Linked DNA regions of Homo sapiens. The protein of the gene in region 1 interacts with the protein of each later gene in a pairwise test. Each region holds a gene or a part of one and is shown in the gene's direction. Other genes may lie near its edges.

Region 1 (5,341 bases):
ATGGTTCTGACACCATGCCTCTCTGGGAATATCTTTGATACAATTGTAAAAACCTGACTTAATTAATTTTTTTGTTTGTATTTCAGCTGCAACTTGAGTTCCTTCCCTCCTTGGACCCTGGATTCCTCCCAGGTCCTATCGATCAACCTCTTTGGCAACCCCCTCACTTGCAGTTGTGACTTGTCTTGGCTCCTCACGGATGCAAAGAGAACTGTCCTAAGCAGGTAACACATTTACAAAGCAGATGGCTGAGGGCAGAGGGTCAGCCTTCAGGAGCTGAAGTTCTCCAGCTTACATCTTGCTCATGTGACCATGCTTGGCACTTTGGCCATGTTGGGCTGGGCAGCCTTTCCCATGTAGTCATACTCAGGGATCCAGGTGATGGAAGCTGCCTCCATTCCAGCCAGCCAGAAGGGGCAAAGAGCATGGAGGAGCAGACCTGGAGGCTTTTGGTGAGCCAGGCTGGGAGGTGTTACTCCTCACTTCCACTCACATTCATTAGCCAGGAGCCACACCTACCTGCAAGGGAGGCTGGGAAGTGTAGTCTGGCTTAACCACTGGGTTCTACTGAATCTTCAAGATGGAGCCTGGCCTCCTGCTCCCGGGTTATCCAGTCCTAGGCCCGTGGGCTTACAGAGCTCTCTTGGGAAATTCCTATGAAGACTATTGGCTAGAAAGAGCTGTTTTTGCAGTGAGGAGCCACATTTAGGCTGGCCACCAGGAGACAGTGGGAGCTGGGGGGCTGGGAACACCCCCAGTCCTGAGCACTTTCAAACCATTTCCACCAAGTAAACACTATACCTTGGGAGGCAACCCCCCTCACCACCATTCTGCAGGATTCTTTTTGTTTATTTGTTTGGAGACAGGGTCTTGCTCTGTTGCGCAGGCTGGAGTGCAGTGGTACAATCATATCTCATTACAGCCTCAACCTCCTGGGCTCAGCGATCATCCTACTCAGCTTCTAGAGGAGCTGGGACCAGAGGTGCAAGCCACCACACCCGGCTAATTTTTTTTTAATCTTTTTGTAGAGATGGAGTCTCATCATGTTACCCAGGCTGTTCTCAAACTCCTGGACTCAAGTGATCCTCCCATCTGGGCCTCCCAAAGAGTTGGGATTACAGGCATGAACCACCATGCCCGGCCAAGATTCTTTTCTCATCTCCCACCCAAGCCCAGCTGTGAGGTGGGGCTCAGTCTGCCCCCCAACCCCACATTCCCTCCAAAGAGAAGCACCTGGGCCCTTTGCAGTCAAGGGTCTCATCACAGTATTAATGATGAAGCTGAGACTACAGGCTCTGGAGCCAGAGAGTCCAGCTTCATCCTACTTACTACTATTTTATTAATTTATTTTAGAGACAGGGTCTTGCTCTGTCATCCAGGCTGGAGTGCAGTGGCATGATCATGGCTCACTGCAGCCTCAGACTACTGGGCTCAAGCAATCCTCCTGCCTCATCCTCCCAAGTAGCTGGGACCACAGCCATGTGCCACCATACCTGGCTAAGTTTTTGTTTGTTTGTTTTGGTAGAGACGAGGTCTCACTATGTTGACCAGGATGGTCTCCAACTCCTGGCCTCAAGTGATCCTCCTACATGGGCCTCCCAAAGTGCTGGGACTCCAGGCATGAGCCACTGTACCTGGTCTACTTACTACTGTTGATTTGAGCTGAGCTATTTCACCTGAGTTACTTTGGCCTCTACCTTCTCATCTGTAAAATGGGGTAATAGAGTCTACTGCAAAAGTAGTGCAGACTAAATTAGTTGACACATTGGAGTGTGAAGAATAGCGCCTAGCACGTGGGAAGCACTCAGAAATGGTAGCTAGTATGAGTATTTTTTTTTTTTTTTTTTTGAGACAGAGTCTCCCTCTGTTGCCCAGGCTGGAGTGCAGTGGTGCAATCTCAGCTCACTGCAACCTCTGCCTCCCAGGTTCAAGTGATTCTCCTGCCTCTGCCTCCTGAGTAGCTGGGATTACAGGCACCCGCCACCATGCCCGGCTAATTTTTGTATTTTTAGTAGGGAGGGGGTTTCACCGTCTTAGCCAGGATGGTCTTGACCTCCTGACCTTGTGATCTGCCCGCCTCAGCTTCCCAAAGTGCTGAGATTACAGGCTTGAGCCATCGCACCGGCCCGAGTATGATTTTTATTACTAGTGCTTTCTTGCCAGGAAGCAGACAGGTGAGAACAAAATGGCAAATGACACTCAGAGAATCTGGACTCCTTCTCAGTGCTTGCCCCGGGGTAGGCTCTGCCATTGCTAGCTATGGTGTCTTGGGCAATTAGTTCCTCCTTCTAAACTTCTGTTTGCTTCTTTGCCCAGTGGGAGTGAGGACAGGAGCTTCCTCCAAAGGTTTCCCCAGAATCAATGAGGTGATGTGTGTGTGCGGCGTGTGTGCCCTGGGGTGCCTGGCAGAGACGCGTTGATGGGCTTGGCAGGGGGTGACGTCGGCAATGAGGATTCAAAGCTCTGCGCAGAAGTGTCCCTGAAGCCAGACGTCTTCTAACTGGTTGGCCTCCCCTCCAGGGCAGCAGACACTATGTGCGCGCCAGCTGCGGGATCCAGCGGCCCCTTCTCAGCCTCCCTGTCACTCTCCCAGCTGCCCGGAGTGTGCCAGTCCGACCAAAGCACCACTCTCGGGGCTTCACACCCACCTTGCTTCAACCGCTCCACCTACGCACAGGGTACCACCGTCGCGCCCAGCGCAGCCCCCGCCACCCGGCCTGCGGGAGACCAGCAGAGTGTCTCCAAGGCCCCTAACGTGGGCTCTCGCACGATAGCTGCATGGCCGCACAGCGATGCACGGGAGGGGACTGCCCCCTCCACGACCAACTCTGTAGCAGGTCACAGCAACTCCAGCGTTTTCCCCAGGGCTGCCAGCACCACCAGGACCCAGCACCGAGGAGAACATGCCCCCGAGCTTGTCCTTGAGCCTGATATCTCAGCTGCCTCCACCCCACTGGCCAGCAAGCTCCTGGGCCCCTTCCCTACCTCGTGGGACCGCAGCATAAGCTCGCCTCAGCCCGGCCAGAGGACACACGCCACACCCCAAGCCCCCAACCCGAGTCTTTCCGAGGGCGAGATTCCAGTCTTGCTGCTGGACGACTACAGTGAGGAGGAGGAAGGGAGGAAGGAGGAGGTGGGAACGCCTCACCAGGACGTCCCCTGTGATTACCATCCCTGCAAGCACCTGCAGACCCCGTGCGCGGAGCTGCAGAGGCGGTGGCGGTGCCGGTGCCCCGGCCTCAGCGGGGAAGACACCATCCCAGACCCGCCCAGGCTGCAGGGGGTGACGGAGACCACGGACACGTCGGCGCTGGTCCACTGGTGTGCCCCCAACTCGGTAGTGCATGGGTACCAGATCCGCTACTCTGCGGAGGGCTGGGCGGGGAACCAGTCGGTGGTGGGGGTCATCTACGCCACGGCCCGGCAGCACCCTCTGTACGGGCTGTCGCCGGGCACCACCTACCGCGTGTGCGTGCTGGCGGCCAACAGGGCGGGCTTGAGCCAGCCACGGTCTTCGGGCTGGAGGAGCCCGTGCGCCGCCTTCACCACCAAGCCCAGCTTCGCGCTCCTGCTCTCTGGGCTGTGCGCCGCCAGCGGCCTGTTGCTCGCCAGCACCGTGGTGCTGTCCGCATGTCTCTGCAGGCGGGGCCAGACGCTGGGCCTGCAGCGCTGCGACACGCACCTGGTGGCCTACAAAAACCCGGCCTTTGATGATTACCCGCTGGGGCTCCAGACCGTCAGTTAGCCCAGCTTCTGGGATAACGCGTCTCATCGAACTGGATCTGAGCGCAAAAAGGAAGACACAGACGGTCAAAAACGACCCCATCCGCTCCTAGGGTTTCTAATTCCCGTGAAGCCAGAATGCCTTGAGCACACATGGAACTTGCCACACTGAGTGTCTGGGTCCAAGGAACTGCTGCCCTCCCTTCCTTCTACTTAACTCTGTTCCCAGAAACCTGATGGTCAATGCCAGATCGCTCCCCACTGCCGCCAGGCCTTCTTGTGTGTTGTTGGTTCATTTGCGGTTTTCAGCAGTCAGTGCCTCTCTATCCAGTAGAATAGTGTATGGACGTAGGAAGGGATGAAACAGAGAAGTTGCATAACCCAGCCTCTTTGATCATGTTAGAAATCACATCCTCAGGTCTTTCCAGCGGAAGCTCCTTCATGGTCAAGCTCTAAGACACAACGAGCTCTGTTATTCAAGAAATCAATTCCAGTGGATTTCCAGTTCCAATTCCTGAGAACTAGGGTAAGGGGGAGAGCTAATGGTTGCTTCCTAAGGCCTTCTGGGTTTATTAGTTCCATTTCAGGACATGACAAGAAAATGTACTCCCGGCTTTACAGTTAAAACCAGTTTTCTGGGAACATTTGTCAAACACAGGGAAAGGCTGTCCTTTTAAGTTAGTGTTTACTGCATTTCACCTAAGACTAAATGGACAAATGAATTATAAATTCATTTTTTAGGAGGCATAATAAACTTTGGAAATATTTTTTCTTAATTAGAGGGAAGAAATGAGCAAAAGAGAACCCGAGGCTCTAGCTAGAAGCCCGTGTTTCTCTGCCCTAATTGCATCAAACAATGCCTTAATAATCTGTGTCTTCATGTGGGAGGCATCTACTCTGTCCTCTACTTTTTCACTTTTATGCAAACTCAGGGGAAACTCAGGGGAAAAAATGATTCTATGAAATTATAATTAGAGCCATATTTCTAGATTTTAATTTTCAACATTGGCATTTATTAATTTCCTGCAGCTGCTGTAACAAGTTACCACAAACTGGTAAAAATGGCTTAAAAGAACAGAAATTTATTTTCCTACAGTTCAGGCCGGAAATCCCAAATCAAAGCATCAGTGGGGTTGGTTCCTCTTGGAGGCTCCGAGGGAGTTGTTCCATCTCCTCTCCCAGCTTCGGATGGTTGGCAGCAATCCTCAGTATTCCTTAGCTCGCAGACATCATTCCAATCTATCCCTCCATCATCTCACGGCATTCTCTCTCTGTTCACATTTCCTTTTTTTTTTTTTTTAACAAAAAAACCTAGTTATTGGGGCCCACTGTAATCCAGTATGATCTAATTCTATCTTGACTGCATCTAAAAAGACCCTATTTCCAAATAAGGTCACATGTACAGTACTGGGGGTTTGAACGTGAACGTATCTTTCTTGGGAGATGCGATTCAAGCCACAAGAGCATTTACTTCTACTGTAAGAAGAAAACAAATCGAGTTTAAATCCTATGTATCTTTTGTTTCCAAACCATGCTGCAGAAACTAAAACTGAACTGCACTATATATATTTCTAGGTGTCTGAAGTTTTGAAAGAGCTTCCCAAAACTTTAAGGTAGA
Region 2 (7,609 bases), on another chromosome or scaffold:
TTCCTATCACATTAAAGTTATTACGGATATCTTGAAATAATTGTTTACACTCTTACTACTTTTAGGTCAGATGCTAGATCTTGCCATTTAATGCATTAATAAACAAAAATGCTATTATTTTACACATTTTCTTATGTTTTCATAGCTATATTTTCAATATTTTGATGTCCTCTGTAATTCTATGTTTTGCTTGGTGCATTTAAAACCATTCTTAGGCTGGGCGTGGTGGCTCACACCTGTAATCTCAGCACTTTGGGAGGCTGAGGTGGGCGGATCACAAGGTCAAGAGATCGAGACCATCCTAACCAACATGGTGAAACCCCGTCTCTACTAAAAATACAAAAATTAGCTGGGTGTGGTGGCAGGCGCCTGTAGTCCCAGCTACTTGGGAGGCTGAGGCAGGAGAATCGCTTGAACCCAGGAGGTGGAGGTTGCAGTGAGCCGAGATCATGCCACTGCACTCCAGCCTGGAGACAGAGCAAGACTCCGTCTCAAAAAATAAATAAATAAATAAAAAATAAAAATAAAAACCATTCTGAGGAAAGGGTGTGGGCTTCATCAAACTGCCAAAGAGGAATCCCTCCTCCAAAAGGCAAAAGCCCAGGCAGGAGGCAGCTGGGGCAGCTCCTTCTAGATCCCACCCGCCCATCACTGCCAGCCAATGAGGGGCCATATCACAGCCACGCCTTAGGCCAGGCTTATCCAGCTCTGCATTTTCATTTTTGCAGAAGGGATGTTTTCCTGAGAAAGGAGGTCTTTTCGGTAAGTGCTCAGACTTCCTTCAAAGTGAACTTTTCAGGGATTGGGCTAGAATGTACGATCTGCCTAAGAAAGTTTCCTCTCAGATCCTGCCAGTTCTAGACATGTCAGAGTGCAGGCCTTTCTTTTGTTGCTAGATTCTTAGATTTTTCAGAAACCAGCAAACCAGATTTTATGTAAAATCCTCCTCTGACTGTATGCCTGCCTATCTATACATCAACGCAGAAAACCCAACAATACACTTTTGACCTAAAATCACCTCAGGGCTCATTAGTGGCCGGCATCCCAGCGCAGGGAGACCTGTCCCATACACCTCAGATACACTTCCCTTCAGGAGAATGGGATCCAGAGCAGGTTTCTAAGGTGTGATGCCAGCATTTGGCAGCAGAGGGCACTCCTATTACAGGCTGTCTAGGCTGTGTCCTATTTCCTGAGGTGTAGGAGGGAGACCGTCTGTGAAAGGGGCTGAGCTGGGTCAGAGGGCGGGTGACTAGTACTGGGCTGAGGAGGGAGTGAGGGGCCATTGGGATATTGAAAATCCATCCTCCTGTCCTCCCACCCAGCAGTTATGGGCCAGCTGCTCGGGGTGACAGGAATGTCTCCTGGACTAGCCAGCTAGGGCCAGTCTCCCTTGGTCTATGCACCTGTCCCCACGGCTGATGCCAGAGCTTGTGTGTGCTACAGTAGAGGTGGGCAGCAGAAATGACAGCTTTCCAGTGCCAAGTGATCTAGTCCTCTAGAGGTTGTTGGTATCCTTGGGACTAAGAAAATAACTTGGCACATGATAGGCATGCAGTAACTCCTCCCTGTGTTGAGTGTTGAACTAAGGCCCAGTAAGGGAAGAGTGTGAGGGTTCCATGCATGAGGTCTTAGTCAGCTCAAGATTCAGGATTTGGTTTTTGGCTAAGGTAGATCTGGGTGCATGTCAAGTCTACTTTCTTACACCAGCCCTGCAAAGGAGGGCACCCTATTTACACATGGGGAAATTGAGGCTGGTGGAAATAACATGCACAAAGGTATCCTCAGAACTACTTTCTGCAAATTTCAGGGATACAGTGGGAAGAGAGCTGAGAAGCAAATGTCCTTGGCGATTTCACAGTGTCAAGTCAGGAGTGCACACCACTGACTTGTAGGCCCAGGGCAGAGCCTACATGTAATTTAGCTAATTTGATTCTAACAACTCTTCTAGGTAGAGTTTACTTTTCCCATTTTACAGAGGAGAAAAATGAAAGGTCAGAGAGGCTACGTGACTTTCCCAGGGTTATGTAGCTTGGGAATGTGGAATGTAGATGTGTCTTTGACTCCCAAGGCCTGGACTCTTCTCTTTGCTCTTGTGGGTGGCAGAAAATCCTGGGGTGAAAAAAGTGCCCTGACTAGGAGAAGACGGCAGGAACAAGATCCCCCATCCGAATACATGGTGCACAGATATCCCAACTTAGTCCTGGTCCCTGCTCCATCCACTATTTTTTTTTAATGTTTAAAAAATTGTGATAAACTGTACATAATGTAAAATTTGCCATCGTAACCATTTTCAAGTGTACAATTCAGTGGCATTAAGTACATTCACATTATTGTGCAACCATCACTACCATTTATCTCTGGAACTTTTTCATCATTCCCAAACTGAGAATCTGTACTCATGAATCAATAACTACTCATTCCCCCTCCTCCAGCCACTGGTAACCACTATTCTACTTTCTGTCTCTGTGAATGGACTATTCTAGGTACAAGTGGAATCATACAATATTTCCAGGTATAAGTGGAATAATACAATATTTGTCCTTTTGTGTCCAGCTTATTTCATTTAGCATAATGCTTTTGCCTTGATCTGAATGTTTGTGTCCCTGCAAAATGGGGTTGAAATCCTGACCCCCAAGGTGACGGTATTGGGAGGTGGGGCCTTTGGGGGGTGGTTAGGTCATGAAGGTAGAGTCCTCATAATTGGGACTAGTGCCCTTATGAAAGAAACCCCAGAGAGCTAGCCAGCCCCCTTCTACTAAGTGAGGGTGCAGTGAGAAGATGACAGCCTATCAACCAGGAAACAGGCCCTCACCAGGCACCGAATCTGCCAATGTCTTGATTTTGGACTTCCCAGCCTCCAGAACTGTAAGAAAAAAACTTCTATTGTTTATATGCTACCCACTCAATGGTATTTTGTTATAGCAGCCTGAATAGACTAAGACAGTTTTCAAGGTTCATTCATGTGTCAGAATTTCCTTCCCTTTTAAAGTTAATATTACATTGTATGGATATACCACATTTTGCTTATCCATTAATCTGTCGATAGACATTTGAATTGTTTCCACTTTTTGGCTATTGTGAATAATGCTATTATGAACATGAGTATACAAATATCTGTTTGAATCCCTGCTTTCAGTTCTTTGGGGTATATACCCAGAAATGGAATTGTTGGATCTTTTGGCAATTCTTGTTTAATTTTTTGAGGAACTACCATTCTGTATCCACAGTAATGGTACCATTTTACATTCCCACCAGCAATGCACAGGAGTTCCAGTTTCCCTGCAAGTCCTTGACAACGCTTGTTCCCATACACATTTGCTTTGGCTGCCTCAAAATGTAGAGCTTGGCAGATTGAGATTGTGGTGGGACGAAAGCCTTTGAAATGGAAAAAAGAGAAAGAGGGAGGGAGAAGAGTTGCGGAGTGGAGAGAGAGAGAGTGTGTGTGAAAAGGAGCTTTTTTCCCACTCTTCCCTGACCCTCATGGGGGCTGCAGCGACTCCTAGAACCTTCAAGCAGCGAGACAGAGGTTCCCTCCACCAGGCGCAGAGCTCTCCTTACACCTGGCCTCCTATTCCCAGCAACTTTAAGGAGATATTTTTAAGTGGCCATGGTTTTATCAAATGCCTATTAAGTTTTTGCCACAAAAGGATTTTATTTAAAATAAAAATAGGGGTAGGTATTTGACTGATGCCCCTTGTGAGTGCTCTAGAGAAGAGGAATGAATACTGACATGTCCTATCTTCCCAGATGCAGAATTGTAAAACAAACATAACTGCTTTTCACATGTGAAAGAAAACTGGCTTAGAACATACTAGCGTTTTCTTTGCCATGAAGGAGTTCACCTTCAGTGACTAAGCCAGAACTACTAGAGTTGCCGGGCCTAGGGACAGGAGACATTGCCAGTGCTTAGCCAGGCTGGCCAGGACTAACCATCTCTGCAAGGAGTCCACAAGAAGCCTCAGGGCAGCCTTTCCCTGCTCCTATCAATTTGAGTTGAGCAACAAACATTTTGACCAAATATCAGCTCTATGGCACAACTCACAGTTACGGTGCCCACAAAACGGAATCTCAGCAAAGCAACTACTACTATGGGAAGAGATCAGGGACTAATATCAGGAGAAAAAATAAGTTTTTCAGTCCTGGGTTTCCAAGTTGGCATCCCCAGGGCAAACCAGCAGGTTGGGAGGGTAGGGGGTGGTGGGTGGGGGCTGCGGAGGGAAGGTGGCTGCTGTCTGTCTGATCAGACCTGGGGCACACCCAAAGAACTCTCCTAGCTTGGGATCCGGTCAGGAAGAAACCAGGACGGTCCCTTTAGGAGGGTGGGCAGGGCTATCTGCCCGGGGGGTGCGGCCGCCCCTGCACAGCAGGCTATCGATTGTACCGGAGGCAGGGTGTGGGGAAACCGGGGCAAGTCCAGCCTCTCAGCAAGGCCAGGAAGCCATTCACTTGGATCCTGGATTTTACTAACGGATTAAACGTGGCATTCCCGCCTTCCCCCATCCGTTACAGACCTAAAAATAGCTCGTCCGAGAGGGGCCGGGAGAGGCTCCACCTCTTCTTGAGGTGGGGCGGGGCGGCTGTAGTAGGAGCTGGAGGCACCAGAGACCCCAAGCCACGAGCTGACCGACGCACCGAGGAGCTCTCTGTCCGCGGTCCCGCAGGTTGGCGGCACTGGAGTGGGCCGGGCAGGCTCTGCCTCCGCCGCAGAGAGCGCCCGGACTGCGTGGGGCTGGGGAAGCATCCCGGGAACGGCGGGCGGTGAGCATTCCGGGAACCATCTCTGGGCTGTCTGGGGCGGTGGAGCAAGTCTGGAGGCGGGACGTGGGGCGAGTATGGGAGCCGCCACCTCGAGACGTCTTCCCGCCGTCCCCGGCTCCAGGAGACCCCACGGTGAGCGGGCCGCGCGGGAAAACTATGCCAGGAATTCGTCCCGGGAGCGGGGCGGGTGGGTAGCTTGGCTGCAGTCCGAGGGATCAGCGATTCGGGAGGTTAAACATTAGCGGGGGCGAACTCCCTGCCGGGGTGCAGCGGGGCGCGGGAGGAGCCGGCTGCGTGCGTCCGCGCTGCCCAGGGCGCGCCCTTCTGGCCCGGCGCGGCCCTGCAGCCCGGCCCCCTCGGCCTGCTCCGAACTGCGGCGCCCAGGGAGGGAAGGACCCGTGCGCGGGGGACGAATGACGGGATGCCCCAAGACTCGGCTTCACTGGGAAGACGGCCTTGGGTTTTTACTTTTTGAAAAAAGAAAAGTGATTTGGGAGGGCTTGATGATCTGAGTGCCGTAGGTAAAGGAGGATTCTTTTAGTAATGAGGTGATTTAAAAGCAATCGCATTGGCATCTTTCGTTCCCCTTCTTCCTTTCCTGGGCTGGACCTCAGCAGGAGGCAGACGTGGTATTTTCATCCTGAGGTGGCTGCGCATAAAGTCCACCGAAGACCTGCTCAGTGCAGGACAGGGATCAGGAGGCAGGGCAGAGGAGGGGGTCCGAGGCTGCCTGGGCAGGGCCTAGTTCACGGAGCACTTCCTAGGGGCCCAGGGCCTAGGCTGCCCCTGCCTGGTCTCCTGGAATTCGATTTCTAACAGGACTTTGGAGAGAGGCCTGGGAAGTATGGGGTGTTCTGACTTGGCTTCTCACACCCTCATCTGCAGATAGGGTGGGTGATCTCTCCCTTCTCAGTTGCAGCCCCTAGCACCTCTCCTCCCCCTCCCGGATGTGAGGACTGGCCAGTGAGAACAATCCTGCTTAGGGAAGGCTGATCCTCCAGTCTAGTGGCTGATAAGGGGCCTTCTGACTGTCTTGGTCAGACACCTCCCTCATCTGGGAATATTTTTTGATACTATCTAACTTGATAAAATACCTCATGAAGTTGTATGCTTCAGGTTGGGAACAGAAACCTGAGTTCATGTGGGCACCATAACTGTGGGTTGTGCCATGGAGCTGATATTTGGTCAAAGGTTTTTTGCTCAACTCAAATTGATAGGAGCAGGGAAAGGCTGCCCTGAGGCTTCTTGTGGACTCCTTGCAGAGATGGTTAGTCCTGGCCAGCCTGGCTAAGCACTGGCAATGTCTCCTGTCCCTAGGCCTGGCAGCTCTAGTAGTTCTGGCTTAGTCACTGAAGGTGAACTCCTTCATGGCAAAGAAAACGCTAGTATGTTCTAAGCCAGTTTTCTTTTACATGTGAAAAGCAATTATGTTTGTTTGTTTTACAATTCTGCATCTGGGAAGATAGGACATGTCAGTATTCATTCCTCTTCTCTAAAACACTCCCAAGAGACATCAGTCAAATACCTACCCCTATTTTTATTTTAAATAAAATCCGTTTGTGGCAAAAACTTAATAGGCTTTTGATAAAACCATGGCCACTTAAAAATATCTCCTTAAAGTTGCTGGGAATAGGAGGCCAGGTGTAAGGAGAGCGCTGTGCCCGGTTGAGGGGACCTTTGTCTCGCTGCTTGAAGGTTCTAGGAGTCGCTGCAGCCCCCATGAGGGTCAGGGAAGAGTGGAAAAGGAGAACACCATGGAATCTGAGAATAAGGCTAAGCTCTGCAGTGGCAGTACTTCAGGAGAGCTCCCAGGTCCCTGTCATCTCTGTTGAGGTCTCTGGAGCTCCCTTGCATACTGTGTGTGCATAGCCTGTTTGCAAACTGTGTGAAGGTTTCCTTGGCAGCCACAACAATTAGCATTAATGACACGCCTGAGCTCCCCCAGTGGGCACTGCTGAAGTTAGCTTGGGAGCCAGGGCAGGTTTGTAAATGATTGCCTGGCAGCCACCTTGGAAACTTGGCTCCCTCAAGTTCTCCTCTTGACTGCATTCTTGAGGAAGCAGAAGAGACAGTAAAGTGGTGATGTTGTTGTTGTTGTCTAGCTGTCAGTTTATGTTAAAAAATAAGGTGTTTGGCCAATTTTGAGGGAGTTATTTTTGACAGATTATTGGTGGGCCGGTTTTAGAAGAACCATAAAGTCTCCAGGGATTGTTTCACAGTGGGATGGCTGTCTTGTGAGGTGGTGAACAACTTGTCACTGGGAGTGTGCAAAGCAAGGGTGGTAGATGGGTTTTCTATATTCTAGATGGGTGTGGGATTGTCCCAGGCAGAAACCAACTCTTAACAATGAAGCAAGTTTGAATGTTAGCACAAATATTCTTTTGGGTCCCTTATTCATAATATTGGTCTAGGAATGGGAAGTTTCCCAAAACCCTGTCAATATATCTAAAGGTGATTAAACAGCTTCAGTTTTCCTAATGACAGTGAGTCATTTCTTCTCTCTCTTTTTTTTTGAGACGAAGTCTCACTCTGTCGCCCAGGCTGGAGTGCAATGGTGCGATCTCGGCTCACTGCAACCTCTGCTTCCCAGGTTGAAGTGATTCTCCTGCCTCAGCCTCCCGAGTAGCTGGGACTACAGGCATGAGCCACCACGCCCAGCTAATTTTTGTATTTTTAGTAGAGACAGGATTTCGCCATGTTGGCCAGGCTGATTTTGAACTCCTGACCTCAGGCGATCTGCCCTCCTTGGCCTCCCAAAGTGCTGGGATTACAGGCGAGAGCCACTGCTCCTGGTTGACAGTGAGTCATTTCTTCCTTGTGTTTTTATTCCCAGATGTGGGAAAAGCAGTCT

The links. Proteins that work in one complex are often made in the same cells at the same time.
Region 2: the proteins of LRRN4 (region 1) and DZIP1L interact in binary tests that used the Homo sapiens proteins (3 or more experiments, as listed by UniProt).

What each region holds. Positions count from the first base shown.
Region 1 is NC_000020.11:6,039,426-6,044,766, reverse strand, and holds the end of LRRN4 (leucine-rich repeat neuronal protein 4 precursor), read left to right. Parts: intron 1-86; coding exon 87-224; intron 225-2,520; coding exon 2,521-3,745; 3' UTR 3,746-4,221; downstream 4,222-5,341. UniProt on the Homo sapiens protein: May play an important role in hippocampus-dependent long-lasting memory.
Region 2 is NC_000003.12:138,112,609-138,120,217, reverse strand, and holds the start of DZIP1L (cilium assembly protein DZIP1L), read left to right. Parts: upstream 1-4,609; 5' UTR 4,610-4,890; intron 4,891-6,737; exon of another isoform or gene 6,738-6,829; intron 6,830-7,609. UniProt on the Homo sapiens protein: Involved in primary cilium formation. Probably acts as a transition zone protein required for localization of PKD1/PC1 and PKD2/PC2 to the ciliary membrane.